Linked DNA regions of Homo sapiens. The protein of the gene in region 3 purifies or fractionates together with the protein of the main gene of each other region. This does not show direct contact. Each region holds a gene or a part of one and is shown on either strand. Other genes may lie near its edges.

Region 1 (3,712 bases), on a different chromosome or scaffold from region 3:
TGAGTTGCAAATTAGCCGGGCATGCTGGCACGCACCAGTAATCCCAGCTACTTGGGAGGCTGAGGCAGGAGAATCACTTGAACCCGGGAGGCAGAGGTCATGGTGAGCCGAGATCACGCCACTGCACTCCAGCCTGGGCAACAGAGCGAGACTCTATCTCAAAAAAAAACAAAAAAAAAAACAAAAAACAAAGATGAGTCGCACATCTGCTGCTGGGATTTTCTAGGGTTGTCTATGACAGAATGACCATCTTTTAAATATTAATGGAGTATAAATGGAGTCTATAATGGGTCTTTCATATAACTTTTAACTCTTTGGCTATCCTGGGCTCTGATCATGATATGTTTGAGCATAGTAGCTCCCTAAACTCTTGGAGCCTTTCAGAAATTCCATGTAGTGCTAATAACCTTTTTACTTGCAAATGATAAAGTAACTGACTCAGTGTCTTTGGGCTCTGCAGGCTTTAGCCTTGTTTTGGTAGGATGTTCAGTATATTCTCAGAATTTTTACCACCTATTTAGCTATACTTCAAGTACTCTATTCTCTGCACTAACTTACTGTCCTTCTGGGAACTATGATGGGGCTTCAAGGGAGTCAGGTGTCAAGAAAGGAGGGGTAAGTACTCTCTACTTGCTGGAAAATCATTGTAAGTCTGTTGTGTATGAAATTTTAGGAAAAGTCTTATATAGTTCCCTTTCCAGACTGTTTTCTTTTGACTCTAACTATAATCATAAGTCTGTGCTTCCATTATGAAGGTCACATTCCTAGCATTCTTGGGAAGTATTAGCTCATACTCTCATTCACATATGGGAGGTTAGATTTTTTTCCTCTACCCAGAGTCCCTTTTTAGTTTACCCCACGGCTTAGTTTGCTGTCAGATACCAGTTCTCTAGCAGATTCCCCAACAGTTTTTTCCCCAGTGGGGAGGGTGGAAGGGAGGGACTGATATAAGTAAGGAGATGAGTAGTTGTGTTACAGTTCATTTTCTTTAAAAAAAAGTATTTTGAGAAAAGGTGCAAAATATTCTTGAAAGTCTCTAGGCCAGCCAAAGTCCACATATGGATATTTGGGGATGTTATTTAAATACTCAGCAGGCTGAGTGCAGGTATACGTGTGTATAGAGTGTGTATACTTTGCTTTTGTTTTATAACATTGTCAGCTAATTTTGGCTTTGTTCTTTGGCATCCATTCTTATTATAAGTGATGGAATGCCATGAAATGTACTGTATTGTATATTACTTGGGAGGACACTAGGTTTTCAAAGAAGTCTGGCAGCACTTGGGTTATAGAGGGCTCAGCATGACCAAAGTCCTAAAGATTTTACCTCCCAGCTTTGGTTGTATGTGTTCCCAAGTGGTGAGGTGAGATTGTGGCTGGAGGAAGAAAAAGGATGGCATGAAAGAATGACCCTTATTGTGGTCTGTCCTTCTAATCAACATAATTAGGGCAGCTTACCCCAACATGAAAATGATGACCTGGCCATTTTTAATGGCCAGAGCTTGAAGTCTGGTCTCTCATTTTGTTTCAGAAATGAGTGAGAGGCCTTCCTGCAGAGCAGTCAGGAGAAATGGTGGAGCCTGGGGCCCTGGAATGGCTGACCCTGTGCCTAGAGAGCTGATGGCAAGGGCTGTCTGGCATGGCTCATTTGGGTGGGGTTTCCCCAGGCATACCTTAGTTCCCTGATCCTCTGCAAAGAGTAGCTCATTGACTGAGCAAGCGCTTCAGGAGGACTGTGCTGGTTGTTCCCAGACCAAAGAGAGTCACTTTTGACTCCATCAACTTCAAGGGGACAGAGCCTAGGCAGCAGATTCTCCTAATTTTTAACACTAAAATTCAAGGAAGCAGTGGAGGAAAGAATGCATTACTACCACAGATAGAAATAGGGGACTCATAGAACTCTCGACTAGTACCTGTCAGCTCTCAAATGCATTCTTGTGTCTTTGCTTGAGCTGCCAAAGAAGGGTCACAAAGTGTTCTTCCTCATGGAAGAAGTGCCTCGGGGTTGCAGGGCTGCAAAGTGACAACTGCACTGAATGACACTTTATTTTTTGGCTTTGGCTTATTATTTAGCACTGGGAGGCCCAGGGGAATTGGTGATTACAGTAGCACTTTGGGAAGTTAAAGCCCCCTTTGGGCTTGCTTTGGAGAGATGATGGCATGCTTGGTATTCCATTTGGATAATCAGGAAGCCTCCCTAGTCCATCCATATTGTGTCAGAGTGGGATTAACAACCCTGGAAGAGTCCACTGCCAAAAGAGTAGTTGCTTTCCTGGAATTTCCAAAGCTTTTGGATTTTCTGGATCAAGTAACCCACTTTTTAAAACCTGAGGTCAGGAGTTCGAGACCAGCCTGGTAACATGGTGAAACCCCGTCTCTATTAAAAATAGAAAAAATTAGCCAGGCATGGTGGCGGGCACCTATAGTCCCAGCTACTCAGGAGGCTGAGGTAGGAGAATTGCTTGAACCCAGGAGACAGAGGCTGCATTGAGCCAAGATCACACCACTGCACTCCAGCCTGGGCAGCAGAGCAAGACTCCATCTCAAAAAAAAAAAAAAGAAAAAGAAAAAGAAGGTTAATCCTTCAGTTATGGAGGTGGGATGAATAGAGCTTGTTTGATGTTAAAGTGGGTAAGGAGGGAGTGGCCTTGAGACACTTGTATTCCAAACTCTCCTGGAGGTTTCCAGTAGCACTACTGTTCCTAAAAGGGTTTCATTTTTAACTTCATCTGTTTTGTTAACATCCAGTCCAATTGAGGTGATCTCAGAGGTGCATCAGGACATCTAGCACTGGGGAGGCCACCTTGCCCAGATAGTTGAAAAGAAAATTGGTCTGGGCAGCCTGTTGTCTTTTGTCTTCATGTAATGTTTTTTCTTTGTTTTAAAGGACTAATGTTTATTACAGTGTTAAATAAAAGTGTAAGATACTAAGTGTGTAGAATAAAAGTGCAATAACAAAAGACAATGACTTTGGCACACACTTCAGTCTTTATCCTCTCTCCTTTCTTGTGCTACCTGGCTCTTTCCATAATATTGTTACAGCAGGACCGTCTTAATTGTGTGCATTTTGAAGAGATGCGACTCTGGGTTAATCTTCATTAGTGTAATATTGAAGGGTTGGGTTTGGTTTTATAGAGTATTCTGTATACTTGTTGGGATACACAAATACCAGATGTGCTGTATAATAAAGATCACATTAACGTTTTAGGTTTCTATCTGTTTGGTTTTGGTTTTCCCTTACCTCACTACCCATAGTAACAGGACGTTCCCTAATCCATTCCATTTCCACTGGTGACCTTCAGTCAGATGTCTTTCAGTTTGCCTTAGGAGAGATGGATGGAACATGTTCCTCTCCCATCAGGGGCCCTCCCCAGCCACCATGGCTCTTGGCCTCTGGGTACTTTACATCATCACTACTGAAGGGTGGGGCAAGGGAATGGGAGATAGGATAGTGGAGAAAAGGGGTGAGATGATAGTCATGTATCTTCCAGAGCCTATCCTGGGTGACATGCTTTTTTCCAGCTTCTTTTAAGCACGAACCTGCAGCATTGTGAGTTCATATATGAGCCTAGCTACTCTATTATAATACATGGTGAGGGAACTGGGCACATAATCTTACGCTGGCCTATCTGCATGTAGTGTATTTTGCATTTTCTATTTAGGCTCACCCCAGTGCTGAGATTTGCTTGCTCAGCAGTGCCTGACAGGCACCACC
Region 2 (3,514 bases), on a different chromosome or scaffold from region 3:
CAATGAGCCAAGATCACACCATTGTACTCCAGCCTGGGCAACAAAGTGAGACTTCATCTCAAAAAGAAAAAAGTAAACATAACTACACCAAAATTCAAACAAAAATATTAACACTGTTGCCCTTTATGTGAATATGAAAGTATTACCTCAAGTTGTATTTTTTAAAGCTAATTCCATTCCTGTTCTTTTATCCTATATAATAAGTCTTATCCCATATGATTTTAATATCTGATACTTTAATAAAATGAGTAAGGATTCTTCCTAATTTCTATGATCAGATACATGTATGTCATGGATAAGAACCCAACTGTTTTTTCTCTAAGACAAAAATCTAAGATACTTGGTCACTAAAAATCCACCAGCATTTTATATAATTGTTGGTCACTCCCTAATGCCAAGAGTCAGTGCAAAAAAAGCATAGAAAGGTGGCAGAAAAGAAGAAAAAGGCGAGGGCAGCCAATTAAGGCAAAAAGGAGAGGAACTGAGATGAAGCATGTAGAACATTTGGAGCCGGGGGGAAATCTCACTCCTCTCTAAAAGTCCCAAAACTGTATTTGAGTTTGGACTGATTTATTTCTAGGAAGCACCGCTGCTATTTCAGATCCGCTTACCTAGGCATCTTCTTTTCACCCTTTCCAGCTCATGCACTCTTCTGGCTGACAGCACAAGAGAAACTCCTAGTTTAGACAACTGGTAAGCCAGCTCCTCACCAATTCCACTCGAGGCTCCAGTCACCCACACCACCATATCAGTCAGCTCCCATTCTATGGAAGGAATGTAAATGGAAGGAAGAAAATAAGCAATGAATTACGCTCATAAATCCAAGATTAGAAAAAAAAAAGAAAGCCTTAAACAATACCACTAAATATGAAGGCATGATGTATAGAGTTAAAATTTGAAATATTCTAAGAAAGCATCTCCTTCTTAACTAAAAAAAAAAAAAAGCATTAATACAAATCATACTAGTAACAGTTATCAACACAGTATTTGTATATTACAGAACCTTCATGACTTTTCCAGACTTTACTTCAAGGTAAGCCTTATAACCTCATGGTTTCACTCTAAGGCTCTATTTAACACAAACAGGTAAGATAAATATGATAGATAAGATAAACAGGCTAAGTAAATACAAAAATCACTGTCTGGACTCACTTTTCCTTAGCCATTAAATGAGGCATTCAGATTAGATGATGGCTGAAGGTCACATCCAGTTTTTAATTCTATTATTCTAATATTTTGCAATGGAGGTTGATGAAGAATCTAAATATACCAAGTTCTGTGCTGTTGATGGAAACATCCTAGATTTTTAAAGTAGTATTTTCCCCATTTGCCAATAATGCCTGATGCCTATCAGCTCAAGGTCATTTTGTAAAAATGTTCCCCAGATGCCTGAGCTTTCATCTTAGGAGAATATAGTAATTCACCCAAGAACAAATGCATATTACAGAGAGATGAAATATTGTACTCTGCTTCTCCAATTATGTTCCTCTTAAAAGACTACAAATGTTACAGTACTAAAGCAATGACAAATGGTTTATTCTTTTCTCCAATGAAAAACTTATTAGCACTTCAGGAGATGATATTCACTGTCTCTCTGAACCCGTAAAGTCACTGTTATGCAAAGTTCCTGGGTGACTTATTTACTAAAATATATGTTATTTATCAAAAATATCAAATATCGTATCACTTAACATCACATTTCCGATTTTAGATCAGAAAAGTTAAAATCAGGAAATGATTGTACTGTTTTAAACAGCTCTAAATCCTAACTGTGATGTTAACAGTACCATCCCTGGAGACTGCCAGGGTTCAAATGCCAGCTCCATCACACACAGCACTGAAATGCTCCCAGGTGAGAACTTGGTGCCTTAATTTTCCACAACTGGAAATGTGATGAATAAGAACACATCCTTCACAGGATTGTTGAGAAATGAGTTAAAACATGGAAAGCACTCAGGGCAGTATCTAGTACATACTCAGTGTTTAATAAACGTCAATTATAATTATTGCTCAAGTTTTTTAACAGATGGACTTTACTACAGCAAAACATAGAACAGTCACTTAATAACGTATGTCTCCTAACTTCTCCAGCCAGGAAAACAGAGTTACCAATTCTAATGGCTTAACGTTTTTACATTACTTCCTATGTACTTAGCACATTGTCTACTAAAAGCCTCACCAGAACTGTATGGAAAGGTATTATTATCTCAGTTTTACAGAAAAGGTAACTGAGGTTTACAGAGATTAATTTGTCCCACTAGACCATAGATTCCATTAAGGGTAGGACCCTGTCTACCTTGTTCATTGCTGTGGCCTCAGTGCTTAGCAAAGACTGGAATATTGAAAAGGCTCCATAAATAACTACTGAATAAACACCCAAGAACCCTGGCAGAGCCGGGATATAAGCCCAGGTATATCTAGCTCCAAAGCCCACACTGTCCACTATTTCATGATATACACATTTACATATGATCAATATTTTAAAACCCAACTGTTTCTTAGACATTCAAGAAAATACCACTTGTCCTTAAGAAAAAGGTTCCATGTAAATATCTCAACTAAGGCCAGGTACGGTGGCTCACATCTGTAATCCCAGCACTTTGGGAGGCCAAGGCGGGCAGATCACTTGAGGCCAGGAGTTCGAGACCAGCCTGGCCAACATGATGGAACCTGTTCTCTATGAAAAATACAAAAATTAGCCAGGTGTGGTGGCGCATCGTTGTAACCCCAACTACTCAGGAGGCTGAGGTGCAAGAATTGCTTGAACCTGGGAGGCAGAGGTTGCAGTGAGCCAAGATTGCTCCACTGCACTCCAGCATGGGTGACAGAGTGAGACTCTGTCGGAAAAAAAAAAAAAAAAAAAAAAATCTCAACTAAGGATGGAAACATCCCAAATACTATGTCTGGGCTACAATGCTTTCCTGTCATATAACGTACTTTTGTGAAAAGGCACAATTGGGCCACCTTCCTATAGGACTTTATCAAGAACAACATAACATCTATTCAGATAATCATTTATTCATTCATTGACTACTTGTTGTTCCCAAGTTCTGCAATCATCACACTCTAGAGTGAATATCATTTGTTTTAGAAACACAGGATTTACTAACTAGTGTCGAGCTAACAAAGACCTCTTGATATTTACACACATAAGCAAATATTTAAAGCTGATGGTGTAAACTTTTAATACAATCACAATTCTGGCCTCTTCCTCCCACCCTGAAGAAACTTTTTTATTTAGCACCGTTTGTTTCCCGATTCCACAGAATCTGGTATACATAATGGCCTCCCTTTAAGAGCCCCTGAAAGTAGATTCTTAAGAGTTGAAAGGAAAGTGATAGTTCAACCCCCACTCCAGTTTGAGAATTCTCTTCTCAAGCCCTTGACCCATCTCTAATTCCCTCACAGGATGAGGAAGCTAATTATCTCTGAAGGCTTCAGCTCCTTTTTTGGGAAAGTCTAATCATTCCAGGGATCTTTTTTATACTGATATGATAAGCTTTTAAATGCTATC
Region 3 (3,241 bases):
CAGGTTCTTCTATCACCATATTTCCTGAAGACTGGCACATAAATCTAGAGGCTTAATTAGATTTAGATTCAAATTAATTTTCTAGTAAAACTATAAATGCTTTATACTATATTTTATATTTTAAAAGTTGTGAATTTAAAAGAAAGAGCATAGTTCCCATGGTATTTTGCACCTAGGAAGACAAGATTCCTAAAAGAGAAGGACGTAAGCCATTTACTCTGGTTTCTGACTGAGTGAATCACCTTTACTCAGAGAGTTAGTGTAATTATGACTGCTATCTGCCAGAAAATGCAGATAGAAGTCTTAGTTATCATTTTATCTCTAACAAATTTATTAGCGATATCTTTAGCCATATGCATCTTTGGCTGAAGATGTTCTCATGCCTTTAATTAAAGATACCAATTTCTTGCCTACATTCTAAGCTAGGAAAATGTTTAAAATGGCTAATGAATAAAGAAGATCCAAAAGAAAATAGAACTTTATTTTAAATTTTTATTTTTATTTGTATTTGTTTAAAAATAAAGCAAATACAGGTACATTGAAGCAGGACTGTAGTATTGTTCTGGAATTTTGGGGTTTGGGGATGTTTAATAAATAATAGCCCTCTCTTCCCTACCTAATTTGAGAACAAAAAGCCAGATAAGGAAATCAGAGAGACTATGATAAAAATAGTTGCATCTATGTCTGATAAAGCTGTTTGGGGAATGTAACTCAGGTCTATAGCAATAATGAACTTGCAGACACTCTCTTATCTTCTATATTACACTTGCCATTCCTCTAGACAGGGCCAGTTAAACAACCATAATCCTCCCTGAGCCCAATGCACAAGCCAGGTTCTTTTTCCCAAACTTGCCACTGAATAATTCCCCCTTCCCTGGTAGGAGGAGGAAAGTGAGTGAGGAGTCAGGGTGCAGCCAAGAGTGGTAAACCAATGGAGGTCTAATCAACATGAAAACAAGTGGAAATAAGTATTCCCCTTCCCTGAAGTCCATGATATAAAAGAGTATCATAAGTAGAGTCCAGTTTAAACACAGCATTTTCAGCAATAAACACCCTCACATGTAGTTGGTCTCAACTCATATCAACTTCCACATTATAGTAGCTCATGTTCAATTGAACAAACTTTTGTGGAGTGTGTGCAAATCACAGTGCTGGCAGATTCCAACATAGAAAAAGACATACTCTTTGCCCACCAAAGGCTCATCCTCTGGTGGGTTCTCAGACAGGTGTACGCAAGATAATGGTGCCCTTGTCTTGTCACTCACTGTGCTAGAGACCGTATGGGGAGTGTGCAGACATGGAGATGTGCTGCTCAGACCTCCCTTGAAGAAGAGACTTGCCCAGTTGCAGGGGGTGTGGTTAGCTGAAGCCTCCAACTACCAGCTCTTTCAGGGTCCACTTCAGCTTTCAAGCTGTGGTCATGTTCTTTTGGGTGGTTCCTGCCCAGTGACTGAGCCAGGTGGTAACTGAGATCACATTCTTCCTGGGGTGACCCCATGCAATGACTAAGCAAGGTGATTATACATGGGCCTGGCAATTTCCACCCAAAGCAGGACTTCCCCGTTGGGTAATCTTTGTTCCTAGGCTTCCTGTTGGGCTAGCGTAGAATGACCAGCTATCCCAGTTTGCTTGGACTGAGAGATTTCCCAGGATGTAGGATTTACCATGCTAAAACTGGAAAATTTCCAGGCAAACCAAGATGTTTAGTCATCCTCGCTGGTGTAGACCTGAGAAGCTCCCTCTTTCTATCCTACTTCCTCCCCTTTTTCCTTTCACAGGTATTGCTCCTCAATAAAATTTGTATTTCTTACTTCATCTCAGTGTCTGCTTCCCAGAATACTCAACCCAAGACATGGGCACAAATAGCTCACAAACCAGGAAGAACCTAAATACTTCAAGAGAAGATAAGGCTGAGATCAGGAAGGCAAGGGAAAAATCAATGTGAAAATTACAGGGATTCTCCTGGGTATTACTTTTTCAAGGGACCATTTATTATGCATACTTTGAAAAAGAAAAGAGGCATATTTAAAATACTCAACGACTTAAGGTTCCCTGAAGTGGATCTGAATACGCAAAATGAAGGTTTTGCCAAAAAAAAAAAAAAAAAAAAAAAGCCAACCTCCTTGTCTCTGTGTCCTTTAACTAGCAACATGCCTTGTTATTAATTTCTATGATTTAAGAAGAAAAACAAAGGGAAATTCAGCTTTTCTAAGAGGTATTCTTAAAATCAAGAGAGAGTGTGAATTGTACAACATGGTGACTATAGTTAATAACAATGTATTGCACACTCGAAAATTGCTGAGTCGATTTTAAGTGTTCTCATTTTAAAAAGATAAGTATGTGAGGTAAAGTATATGTTAATTAGCTCAATCTAGTCATTCCACAGTGTATACATATTTTAAAACACCATGTTGTATACAGTAAATATATACAATTTTTATTTATTTATTTTTAATTGGCTTTAAATTAAGACAAAAAGAGAATATAAGCGGAATGGTACTTGTGGAGAGAAGAGAAGGCATCCTTCAGGGCTAGATTAGAATGAGGCAAGTGGCTATTTGGAGTACAAAATTTAAGGAGGCACTCACTCTCAGGGTCACAGAGCTCAGAGTCGGCACCCTCAGGACCCGAAAGTGAGCACCTCCTTAAATATTGTACGCCAGGTGTCTCGCTTGCCTCAACTTAGTCCTGGCCCTGGTATTCAGAATAATATTATGCAACTGATGGGGATGCTTCTTTCCTGCCCTAGATACAAAGCCATTGTCCGGCCAATGGATATCCAGGCCTCTCATGCCCTGATGAAGATCTGCCTCAAAGCCGCCTTTATCTGGATCATCTCCATGCTGCTGGCCATTCCAGAGGCCGTGTTTTCTGACCTCCATCCCTTCCATGAGGAAAGCACCAACCAGACCTTCATTAGCTGTGCCCCATACCCACACTCTAATGAGCTTCACCCCAAAATCCATTCTATGGCTTCCTTTCTGGTCTTCTACGTCATTCCACTGTCGATCATCTCTGTTTACTACTACTTCATTGCTAAAAATCTGATCCAGAGTGCTTACAATCTTCCCGTGGAAGGGAATATACATGTCAAGAAGCAGGTAGGTGCTCAGGATTGATTCATTTCCTCCTTGGGGATATAATCCCTTGCATTTCTTTTGGACCCCACTGACAAGCCATGACACTTGAATCTGCAATTAGATGAGGTGGGTGATGTGTGGCCAGATGCTAAATGGAAATG
Region 4 (3,514 bases), on a different chromosome or scaffold from region 3:
TTTGCAAAGGATCCAGCGGATGACCAGAAGGATCCAAATGATGAGATAGCCTATCCTTGAAGGTGCTGATGGCACCTCCTGGAGGTGCTTTTTTGACACTCTTGCCCCAGGCAAGTATTCCCCTTGCACTTTGTATTTCTCTCCCACACTTAGGTATCCTTCTTGTCACAGTCTTCTCTGTCCAGGGCTGGACTGTCTTACTCTTCTTTCATGTCCAATATCTGGAACATTCATTCACTGAGTACTTCTTCCCACCCTGCTGATCCCCAGCCTGATTTCCTGGGTGGTCAGCGTTGGGTTTGAGATGTCGTCTGAAGTTGTAAGCAGAAATAATGTAGCTGCTGAAGGAATAATGCCTGGGGGTGGAGATCTGGTGAGCTTTTAGTGAGCATTAGGCAATGGAAGGTTCTAAAAGGCCAGCAGAATTCTTTGAAAAGTTCATTTAAAGCCCTTTGTCCCAAGGCTGTAGGCTGCAGAGTTCTTCCAGGTCCACCTCCTCCACTTTGTGACATTTCAGCTTGCGAGGAATTAAATTGTCGTTAAAACACATTTCAGTTCTAGGCATGAGTTCAAGGTAGCCTGGCGTTCCTCTCGCCCCTGGCCATGAGAACTTTGAAAGGGCTTTGGCAGCACTGGTTGGCCTGGCATGAGGAGCTCATAGCTTGAGGCTCATGCCCCACCTGTCCATAATGTTCTTATTTTCCCATCATGAGCATGGACTTGGGTTTGTTACATGTCCGATACCATTATGGTCAGTACTATGCAGATGACGAAGCAGCCCTGTCCCCCGTCTGACTCCCATGGCTGCTTCAAGGGCAGTGTGGTTATTTGCTGGGCAGTGGCATGGGGCTTGTGCATTTCTACTGTCACTACAGAGGGTTTAAAAAAAAGACATGGGCAGGTTAAGTGGAAGGGAACAGTCTCACACCACTACCTTTATTGCTTCTTGGTACTTGGGTTTTCAGGAAATTCCTATCAGCAGACATCAAAAACAGAGAATGAAGGGACGCAGTTGGCATGTGCCTGTGGTCCCAGCTACTTGGGAGGCTGAGGTGGGAGCATCGCTTGAGCCCAGGAGGTGAAGGCTGCAGTGAGTATGATCACGCCACTGCACTCCAGCCTGGGTAACAGCGCAACCCTGTGTGTAAAAATAATAATTTTTTAAAAAGATTAAAACCAAAAAAAAATTGTAAACAGAGTTCAACGTAACTTACAGATTAAAAACAGTAAAATATGACAGAAACTGAGAGGTAGTCATGATCAGATATGGCCTCCTTCGGGTGCCGACATCTGAACTGAGACCTGAATGATGAAAAGGGCCAACACTGCAAAAATTCAGGGAAGGAACATTTGGAACAGAGAGAACAGTCAAGTACAGAGGCTCCCGGATGTTCAGGGACAGTAAGCAATGAGAGAATGAGAAGACCAGAAAACTAGGGAGGGGCCAGATCATGTAGGGCCTTAGAAAGCCATGGTAAGGGTGTGGTAAGAAGTTTGGGTTTTATTCCAATAGCAATGGGGAGTCACAGGAGGGTTTCTGGTGGGTACAGCAATCTGCTTTGCACTTTAAAAGGCTTGCTCTGGCTGGAGGTGGAGAGGATGAATTATAGAGGGTAGGTATAATCACAGATATAACCTCAGTGAGGCGGCTGGAGCGAGTCCAGACCAGACCACGGAGGAGCAGGTGAAGCCAATGGATTTGGGATATGTTTTGGAGGCAGTGTAAGCAACGCTTGCTGAGGACCTGGATGTGGTGGTGAGAATCACCCCATCTCGAGCAACATTAACTGAGGAAAAAATTGAAAAAGGGGCGCCCTTGCTTGGGGGCTTCCTATTGTGGAACTGTTATGGAAAGGAGCCCCATCCATTGCTTCCTCCTTGAATGGCAAATGCCTTTATGATCCCTATAACTTGTCCCATTATGTTTAGACCCTTGGTGGTCAGAAGGGTTCTATTTAGGGCAGTGTCCCCTGCCCCTCCTTGTCCTCCAAAAATTTTGGGAGGCACTGACGTGGATGTCATGGGGTCAGCACAGGCATCAACATCCCCAGAGGGATGGAACCAAGCAGCCTATTGCCCAGGCATTCACTAACAGGCAGCCCATCCTCAGCCTCATAGCTGGCCGGGGAGAAGAAAGGCTATTTTGGGTCCCAGATCTTTTTTTTTTTTTTTGAGACAGAGTCTCGCTCTGTCACCCAGGCTGAAGTGCAATGGTGCGGTCTCAGCTCACTACAACCTCCGCCTCCCGAGTTCAAGAGATTCTCCTGCCTCAGCCTCCTGAGTAGCTGGGACTACAGGTGCGTACCACCAAGCCTGGCTAATTTTTGTGCTTTTAGTAGGGACGTGGTTTCACCATGTTGCCCAGGTTGGTCTCAAACTCCTGGGCTCATGCAGTCCGCCTACCTCAGCCTCCCAAAGTGCTGGGATTACAGGCATGAGCCACTGCACCCGGTCTCTGTTTACAAATTTATCACCAGCTTCATCCCCTAAGGTTATAAGCTCCATGAGGGTGGGAAGTCTGTATTGTTCACCTCTGTATCCTAAGCATCTAGAACATAGCCCGGCACACAGTAGGTGCTGAAGAACTTGAATCTGTTAATGTAGAAAGGATGTTTCATCTAGCTGAAGTGTCTTGTACAGAATAAACTCTCAATAAATGAACTGTGGACACATGGAAGGGTGAGCTAGAGCTCTGCTCAGGGGTTGAGTGCTCCTCTTGTGCCCTTGTGGTTGTCTGGTTACCTGAACTAATTGGAGTGCGATGCAGACATAGTCATGGAGTGAGACAGCAGAACTTTGCTGTCTTGTTTGTGAGCCCACATCAGGGGTTCTAGACTGGCTGGTTGACATGGTGGCCCCAGCCTGTCTCTTCAGCAGCTCGGCTTATAAAAAATAACCACCACCTACTGGGGAAAACTGCTGGAACCTTCAGATTGCCAAATTGTTCTTGGTGTCTTTTCCAGAAATATTTGCCAAACTCGAATTAGCCTTCAGGAGATTTGATAAAGCTCATGTTTAAGTCAAGAGACCAAAAGATTTTGATGGGGAGAATTAGGGGCTGGATATAGAGGGAATACTTAACCTGTATAGGGGCAGATATGGTTGTCCATGGAGATTCTGGTGTGAAAAAGTACGATGGCGGCCGGGCGCACTGCCTCACACCTGTAATCCCAGCACTCTGGGAGGCTGAGGTGGGTGGATCACCTGAGGTTGGGAGTTCAAGACCAGCCTGAACAACATGGAGAAACCCCATCTCTACTAAAAATACAAAATTAGCTGGGCGTGGAGGCACATGCCTGTAATCCTAGCTACTTGGGAGGCTGAGGCAGGAGAATCGCTTGAACCCAGGGAGGCAGAAGTTGTGGTAAGCCAAGATCGTGCCATTGCACTCCAGCCTGGGCAACAAGAGCGAGACTCCGTCTAAAAAATAAACAAAAAAGTACGATGGGAGAAAGGGGAGAGGGCAGTGGGGCCTGGAAACCTCATGACAAAGAGAATGAACACAAGAGGGCCT

The links. Proteins that work in one complex are often made in the same cells at the same time.
Region 1: the proteins of GRPR (region 3) and DSTYK purify together in Homo sapiens (affinity purification with mass spectrometry; 2 studies listed by BioGRID and IntAct, with this or other methods). This does not show direct contact.
Region 2: the proteins of GRPR (region 3) and DHRS7 purify together in Homo sapiens (affinity purification with mass spectrometry; 2 studies listed by BioGRID and IntAct, with this or other methods). This does not show direct contact.
Region 4: the proteins of GRPR (region 3) and FADS1 purify together in Homo sapiens (affinity purification with mass spectrometry; 2 studies listed by BioGRID and IntAct, with this or other methods). This does not show direct contact.

The regions. Positions count from the first base shown.
Region 1 is NC_000001.11:205,141,995-205,145,706, reverse strand, and holds the end of DSTYK (dual serine/threonine and tyrosine protein kinase), read left to right. Parts: 3' UTR 1-3,202; downstream 3,203-3,712. UniProt on the Homo sapiens protein: Acts as a positive regulator of ERK phosphorylation downstream of fibroblast growth factor-receptor activation. Involved in the regulation of both caspase-dependent apoptosis and caspase-independent cell death.
Region 2 is NC_000014.9:60,155,389-60,158,902, forward strand, and holds part of DHRS7 (dehydrogenase/reductase SDR family member 7 isoform 1 precursor), read right to left. Parts: intron 765-3,514; coding exon 612-764; intron 1-611. UniProt on the Homo sapiens protein: NADPH-dependent oxidoreductase which catalyzes the reduction of a variety of compounds bearing carbonyl groups including steroids, retinoids and xenobiotics.
Region 3 is NC_000023.11:16,147,556-16,150,796, forward strand, and holds part of GRPR (gastrin-releasing peptide receptor), read left to right. Parts: intron 1-2,749; coding exon 2,750-3,101; intron 3,102-3,241. UniProt on the Homo sapiens protein: Receptor for gastrin-releasing peptide (GRP). Signals via association with G proteins that activate a phosphatidylinositol-calcium second messenger system, resulting in Akt phosphorylation. Contributes to the regulation of food intake.
Region 4 is NC_000011.10:61,806,994-61,810,507, reverse strand, and holds part of FADS1 (acyl-CoA (8-3)-desaturase), read left to right. Parts: intron 1-3,514.